2 linked regions of the Homo sapiens genome follow. The protein of the gene in region 2 binds, or shares a complex with, the protein of the main gene of each other region. Each region holds a gene or a part of one and is shown on either strand. Other genes may lie near its edges. The genes, in order: DPF1 and SMARCA4.

Region 1 (3,807 bases), about 27 Mb from region 2:
GTTGGCCAAGGTGGTCTCGATCTCTTGACCTCGTGATCCGCCTGCCTCGGCCTCCCAAAGTGCTGGGATTACAGGTGTGAGCCACCACGCCTGGCCTGTTTTCTCACTTTCTTGGCCCCTCACTCCTGACTCTCCCCACAGGCATATGGCATCGGGGGTCTCCGGAAACGCCAGGACACCGCTTCCCTGGAGGACCGAGACAAGCCGTATGTCTGTGATAGTGAGTCCTTCTGAAGAGGGGGAAAGGCAGAGAGAGGGGTGCCCAGAGACTCCCCACCTCGTGGCCCTCTCCCTCCCGTTCCAGACCCGGGTTGGGAGGCTGCTCAGGTCTCTGGCTGAGGGGGGAGGTGTGATCCTGGAGGCCAGGGTGGAGGCGGCAGGGGCCCGGAGGGGCTGACAGGCCCTCCTGGCTCGCTCGCTCCCCAGTCTGTGGGAAACGGTATAAGAACCGGCCGGGGCTCAGCTACCACTACACCCACACCCACCTGGCCGAGGAGGAGGGGGAGGAGAACGCCGAACGCCACGCCCTGCCCTTCCACCGGAAAAACAACCATAAACGTGAGCTGGCAGGCCAGGTGGGGGTGGCCAGGGGCCCTGGGAGTGGGGAAGAGGAGCCCAGCTGGGGGTGGGGGTGGGGGGGCATTAGACATTTCTGGAAAATCTCCAGCTCAGCCGTTCCCTCCCCCCACCGACCATGGGGATGCTGGCTCCGGGGTTGCCATGGCAACCAACCATCGCTCCTTCGCTCCTGGCCGGGCGTAATATTTCTGGGTCTGATTTATTGTTTCAATTAGAGCTTGGGGAGGGGGGGTGATAGATGGCTCCCCTCCCGCCCTGCCTTCCCTTTCTCCTTTCTCTGCTAAGCTTTGGTCAAGGGGCAGGGTCTGTGGCCTGGGAGCCCTTGGCTTCCGCCCTTGCCAATCCCATGCCAGTTCTGACAGCTGAAGGATGGGGGAGGGGAGGAGGGTTTGGGAGAGGCAGTAGGGAGACACTGTCTTCCCACCTATCTCTCAGAGGCAGAGGCTGAGTGTCTTCACCCCTGGCCACTACACACCCACGCACCTCAGTGTTCGGAGTTTTTCTTCCGAGTGTCTGTTTCCATACCAGATCTTGGCTGGGGTACTCGCTGAATTTGTTAGATACAAATTACTGAGGGTGCAGTTGGGAGTGGCTGGCTGGGAGACATGTATGTGAGAAGGGAGGCAGGGAGCCCTTCCTCAAGCTGTCTACCAAGTTTTGACCCAATAAAGAGGACATGTCAGTTGTCTCAAGGAGTTGGGAATCCTGGCTGGGTGCAGTGGCTCACGCTTATAATCCCGCCACTTTGTGGCAGTGGCCGAGGTGGGAGGATCACTGGAGGCCAGGAGTTGGAGACCAGCCTGGGCAACATACCAAGACCCTGCCTTTATTTTTAATTGAAAAAAAAATTTAAAAAGGCAGAGTTGGGAGTCCCGATGAGAACTGTTTTCACCTCTCCCCACAGCTTGGGGTAGCTACTCACTCTTCCCAGCTCCCCACGCCTGGACTAAGAGGTCCATCCTTGGGGCTGAGGCTGGGGGCAGGGTGGAGCCTTGCCTGTGGTGAGAGTCCCTCTCTCTGTCCCCCCTACCCCAGAGTTTTACAAAGAATTGGCCTGGGTCCCTGAGGCACAAAGGAAACACACAGGTACGGATGCCTCCTTCTGCTCCTAAAGTCTGCAGCCACCTTTGCGGGGTGCCCTTGCCTGCCCCGTGCCAATGCCTGTCTGCTGTCTTGCAGCCAAGAAGGCGCCCGACGGCACTGTCATCCCCAACGGCTACTGTGACTTCTGCCTGGGGGGCTCCAAGAAGACGGGGTGTCCCGAGGACCTCATCTCCTGTGCGGACTGTGGGCGATCAGGTGATGCTCCCCACCTGAGGTTTCTGGGGGCCGGGTGCAGAGGACATTCAGGAGTGCAGACCTGGAGGGAGGGAGGCAAGGCGGTGAGGACCGAGGGGACCCGGAGCATGTAGGGGATACTGTGGATAACCAGAGCTAGCGAGGCTGATGCAACTGCTGAGGATTGTGGGAATTGGGTCGGATCAGTGAGGCTTTAGGGATAATGGGATGTGGCTCTCATGGCACTGTGGGTAGCTGCCTGTGCTTAGCATGGCATCAAGAGTAGTGAGAGGCCAGGTGTGGTGGCTCACGCCTGTAATCCCAGCACTTTGGGAGGCAGAGGTGGGAGGATCACTTGAGGCCAGGAATTTGAGACCAGCCTGAGCAACATAGCAAGACCCCCATCTCTACAAAAAATTTAAAAATTATCCAGGTGTGTTGTTGTGCACCTGTAATCCCAGCAACTCAGGAGGCTGAGGCCGGAGGCTCCCTTGAGCCCAGGAGTTTGAGACCAGCCTGGGCAACATAGTGAGATCCCATCTATATATAAAAAAAGTTAGCTGGGCATGGTGTTGCACCCCATTAGCCCCAGCTACTCGGGAGGCTGAAGTGGGAGGCTCGCTTGAGCCCAGAAGGTTTTTGTTTTGTTTTGTTTTGTTTTGTTTTTTGAGACAGAGTCTCCCTCTGTCACCCAGGCTGGAGTGCATTGGCATGATCTTGGCTCACTGCAACCTCCGCCTCCTGGGTTCAAGTGATTCTTGTGCTTCAGCCTCCCGAGTAGCTAGGATTACAGGCACCCGCCACCATGCCTGGCTAATTTTTAATATTTTTAGTAGAGACGGGGGTTTCACCATGTTGGCCAGGCTGGTCTCAAACTCCTGACCTCAGGTGATCTGCCTGCCTTGACCTCCCAAAGTGCTGGGATTACAGGCGTGAGCCACCGCAGCACCCAGCCCCTTGAATCTGGGAGTTTTTGACTAGCCAGGGCAACATAATGAGAGCCCATCTATTAAAAAAAAAATAGGCCAGGCTGGGTGATGTGGCTCACATCTGTAATCCCAGCACTTTGGGAGGCTGGGGCGAGCAGATCATGAGGTCAAGAGATCAAGACCATCCTGGCCAACATGGTGAAACCCCATCTCTATAAAAATACAAAATTTAGCTGGGTGTGGTGGTGCGTGCCTGTAGTTCCAGCTACTCCGGAGGCTGAGGCAGGAGAATCGCTTGAACCCGGGGCTCAGAGGTTGCCATGAGCCAAGATTGCACCACTGCACTCCACCCTGGGTATCAGAGCAAGACTCCGTCTCAAAAAAAAAAAAAAAAAAAAAAGGCTGGGCATAGTTTCGCACCCCATTAGTCCCAGCTACTCGGGAGGCTGAGGTGGGAGGATCGCTGGAGCCTGGGAGGTCAAGGCTGCAGAGTGCACTGTGATGGTGCCACTATGCTGCAGCCTGGGCAACAGAGTGAGACCTTGTTTCAAAAACCAAAACAAGACAAAAGGAGTAGCAAGAGACAGGGGCCAAGGCATGGCAGGTAGTGGGCTGTGTGGTGTGAGTGACGGACACCACCACCTGGGCACCGGTAGCAGGATGAGCTCGCCATAGAGTTGTGGTTAACAGAATGTGGTTTCCCATGGTGGGCTTGTGGGCAATATAGACTCTGGTTGCCTCAGCACAGTAGGTCATGAATTGTGGTTGTCGTGGCATCATGGGTAGTGAAATATGGTTGTCATGGCAACTCAGTATAATGGAATGTAGTTGTGATGGCACCGGGGCCGTGGTTGCAGGGGGCGGGCGCCATGGGTCGTGGCTGCAGGTAGCGGCTGCGGGTGTCTCTGCAGCGGGGCTGTGGAATGACTAAGCCTGGCGCTGCACAGTGCTGTGATGTGAGTAACAGTTTTGTTGCTGGGGCACCAAGTGGAATGGACTTCAGTTGCATGAAACCGAAGTG
Region 2 (3,807 bases):
ATTTCCAGTGTTTCACCACAAAACGTCTCTCCACACATCCCAGAAATGAAAACAGGCCCCGCTGGGAGAACTAGAGGAGGTGGGCCTGGAGCACAGAGTCCAGCACCCAGCCCACAGCTAGGCCACAGCGTCCAGCGTCAGCACAGCCACCACCACCACAGCCCTGGATTCTCTCCTCTACTCTACCCTGTGCCATTCCATGGGGAGCGGAAGACACAGCGGCCAATGCCGGCAACACCGCCGCTCGCAACACAAGGGACCTGGGGGTGGGTGGACAGTGACTGTGGGTGCACCTGCCTTCAGCCCTGTCTCAAAAAGTTTTGTGGTTCACAAAGAGAATCTTCTACGGTAAAAGCATGGAGACCTTATAAAGGGGGCTCGTGTCCTTTCTGGCAGGATCAGTGTCCCCATGCCCCAGAAAACCCAAGTCAAGGAGCCAGAGCAGGTCTCCTGGGTGACAACCCACGATGCCCTCAGCGTTGTGGGCATTAAGGCAATGTCAACACTCCCTGCGCTGCTGGGAGTTCGGACAGAGGTGCCCCTGAACACTGAAGTCATTTTGGTGATGAAATAAAAACTGGCAGGCCGGGCGCGGTGACTCATGCCTGTAATCCCAACACTTTGGGAGGCTGAGGTGGGTGGATCGCCTGAGGACAGGAGTTCGAGACCAGCCTGGCCAACATGGTGAAACCCCGTCTCTACTAAAAATACAAGAAAATTAGCTGGGCGTAGTGGCGGGCGCCTGTAATCCCAGATACCAGGGAGGATGAGGCAGGAGAATCGCTTGAATCCAGGCGGCGGAGGTTGCAGTGAGCTGAGATCATGCCACTGCACTCCAGCCTGGGCAACAAGAGTGAAACTCCGTCTCAAAAAAAAGAAGAAATAAAAACTGGCCATTTCCTGCCACCAGCCTACACATGCCCAGGCACGGTGCAGAAGCCCACAGTAGCCTGGCCATCCACCTGCCGTCCCACCCTCTCTCAGGCACCAGATGTGCCCCTGCTACTCCAGCTCGGAGGAGGGGCTGAGGTGAGGGGCCACCCGGCTCCCAGATGCCAGCCCACCCATGGGAGATGCAGTCTCAGGAGACTTCACTGAGCTCCTACCCTTCCTCTACTCGCAATGGATTCTCTGGCCCTGTGGCCATGACCACATCACATGCAGAGGACACATCTGTAGTTCAACTGACCAAAGTCCTTGTCCTTATGGAGTAGGCAGAAGGGCACTGGGATGGGTGGGAACCAGGCTCTCTCCTGGGGGAGTCAGGGACACGACACAGACGGGATGGCCCTCAGGAAGCCTTGGCCCTCTCGAGGACGGGAGAAGCCGCTGGAGAGACCGTAGGAGAGGAAAGGGTGGGGGGTGGCCCGGCCATGAGGACCCTGAAGGATTTTGGTTTTCAGCCTCAAAGCTGAAAGTGGGAAGCCCCCAAGGAAGAAGGCAAGCCGGGGAGACCCCTGCAACAGACTCGTGTCTGTAGAGTGGTCCTGGACAGAACCCCGGGGAGGACCTGCAGTTTGGAGGGACACACAGGGCACACTCCGGGTGGCACCTGGGCAGGTTGGCCCAGCAAACACAGGTCCAAGTGATCAACGGGACAAGGGGTATGGAGGTCTGGGGTGTCCTGCTGTGAGACAGACCTTGCACAGGAGCTTCAACAAAGGCTCTGGGAGGTCGTGTAGGGAACAACAAACTGGCTGAGCCGTGTCTGTCTCAGCAGCTCATGCTCGTGTTTCTCGTAAGCCCAGTTCTAGTAACTCCCACGAAGAACTCACTCCAGGGCTCCCTGACCCACTGGGACTGACAGACATGTCTCACGTGCCCTGTCGGCATCTCACAGCCTCTCCTCCCTGAGCTCCCGTGTGCTGGGGCAGGCAGGCGCAGAAACACAGGCGGTGACCTTTCCCATCAGGGACCGCAGGGCAGGGGGTTGGGCTGAGAGCCTCTCTACGGCAGCTGCTGCTCCTGCCTGGCAGTGCTTGCTTCCCTCCCTCCGTGCTCACCACAGAGTCTGATTCCAGGTCCAGGCCTGACCTGTGGCAAGGTGGCAGTCACTGGGCTGCTACGAATGGCCCAGGGATGGGCATGCGGCTCACAGCAGCTAAATGAGAGCCAGCCTGGGACCTGCCTTTGTTGGGGACACTGAGCAGGTGGAAAGGAAGCCAAGATGGAAGAAGGCAGAGCAAAGAGCTGGAGAAAAGTCTCTCCAATATCACCTGCATGCCTGGATCCAGCTGTGCCTGAAGGATGTTTAACCTCCTGGGGTTAGAGCTATGTAAGCCTATTGGTGCTTTCTTTCCTGTGTCCACATGGTATGGAATTCTGTCACTTCCAGCTAAAAGTGCACAGGGCACCCCTTCCCCAGTGCGCCCAGCATTGTCGTGGAAAGACTGTCAGCCTAGGAGTCAGGACACCCGGCGTCCAATCCACGGCCTGTCCCAGTGCCGAGTGCCCAAGATGCTCAGCCTGTGGCTAGGCCCACTCTGGCCACTGGACCCAGAGCGCCTGGGCCTCACCCTGCCTCACAGGAGGGAATGCCAGTGAGGAGCTTCTGTGGCAGCCACAACAACAAAACCCTGTAAGAAACGCCTCACTGGCTCATACTCACCATCAAGCCTGAGGTATTTAAAGCCGCGATACGCAAAGTAATCTTCCATGATGGTCATGAGGGAGGTCATTTGGCAGAACAGCAGCACTTTGTGGTTGGTTGCTCGGAGTTTGGGAAGAATTCTATCAAGAAGCTCAAATTTACCCGAGGCTCGGTACAGGTCCAGCCTGGAGTGTGGAGGAGGCAGGAGAGAAGGCGCAGGATGTTAAACCTGGAACCCTGCAGGCAGGTAAGGCAGGAGGTGCATCGCCCGCCTCCAGGCCAGGCGCCGGGTTCAAGGGCACAGACATGCATCCTAAGCAGACGTCACCCACCCAAAGCTTCAGCAAAGCCATTTCCCCCAACTGAAATAAGCCCGGCCACCCTCGCTGGGGAGGCGTATCACCAGGGTGGCACATGTATTTCTCGTCAAACCCAGACACTCATGAAAATGAGAGGAGCTGTGAGTCACATGGCCGGCACAACACGGGGCTGGAACAGGGATGCTCCGGGAAGCCAGACCTTGTCCCCTTGCCCGATAAAGAAGCCCCAGGAGCAAATGCCACACTGGAGACACCCATGCTCTGCTAGACCCAGAAGGAAGGGCCACCTCGGCTTCTCATGTTCTCTCCAGCCAAACCCCAAGTGTTGTAGATGTGGACACTGAGGCTGGCAGGGGGACGACGTGATATGGCTGACCACATGTCCAAGCCAGGCCTCCCAGCCTTGAAGCCAGGTGTACAGGACCCTGTTCCACAACTCAGTATAAAAAAACACATCAAAAAGAATTTGTGATGTTTTCATTAGGCGCCTCTCTTCTTGCAAATGGCTTACTACCCCAGGGGAATTGAATGGAGGCTTTAGCTGGAAGAATGCTTTTAGCAAGGTTCTTTGCAATGGTGAAAATCTAGACACAGCATCCACATCCATTAGGGGCTTAAAGGAGTCTGGGCTGCCCCTTACAAAGGGTGCTATAGAAAACACCCACATGATGTAAAGAGTGCCTCTGTACTAGTGAGCAGAGTTTAGGCTCAGAGAGGTTAAGAAAGCTGTCTAGAGTCACAGAGCTTGGAGGCGGCAGAGTGGGATCTGTAAGCCAGGTCTGCCTCAGGAATCCTGTCTCTTGGGGTTAATAGTGGTCAGCTCTCCAAGCACTAAAGATTTGTATAATGGGGCCGGGCGCGGTGGCTCACACCTGTAATTCCAGCACTTTGGGAGGC

The links.
Region 1: SMARCA4 (region 2) and DPF1 share a complex: the UniProt entries of both Homo sapiens proteins name them as parts of the neuron-specific chromatin remodeling complex.

The regions. Positions count from the first base shown.
Region 1 is NC_000019.10:38,214,211-38,218,017, reverse strand, and holds part of DPF1 (zinc finger protein neuro-d4), read left to right. Parts: intron 1-141; coding exon 142-220; intron 221-426; coding exon 427-558; intron 559-1,614; coding exon 1,615-1,665; intron 1,666-1,758; coding exon 1,759-1,878; intron 1,879-3,807. UniProt on the Homo sapiens protein: May have an important role in developing neurons by participating in regulation of cell survival, possibly as a neurospecific transcription factor. Belongs to the neuron-specific chromatin remodeling complex (nBAF complex).
Region 2 is NC_000019.10:11,026,752-11,030,558, reverse strand, and holds part of SMARCA4 (SWI/SNF-related matrix-associated actin-dependent regulator of chromatin subfamily A member 4), read right to left. Parts: intron 2,776-3,807; coding exon 2,609-2,775; intron 1-2,608. UniProt on the Homo sapiens protein: ATPase involved in transcriptional activation and repression of select genes by chromatin remodeling (alteration of DNA-nucleosome topology).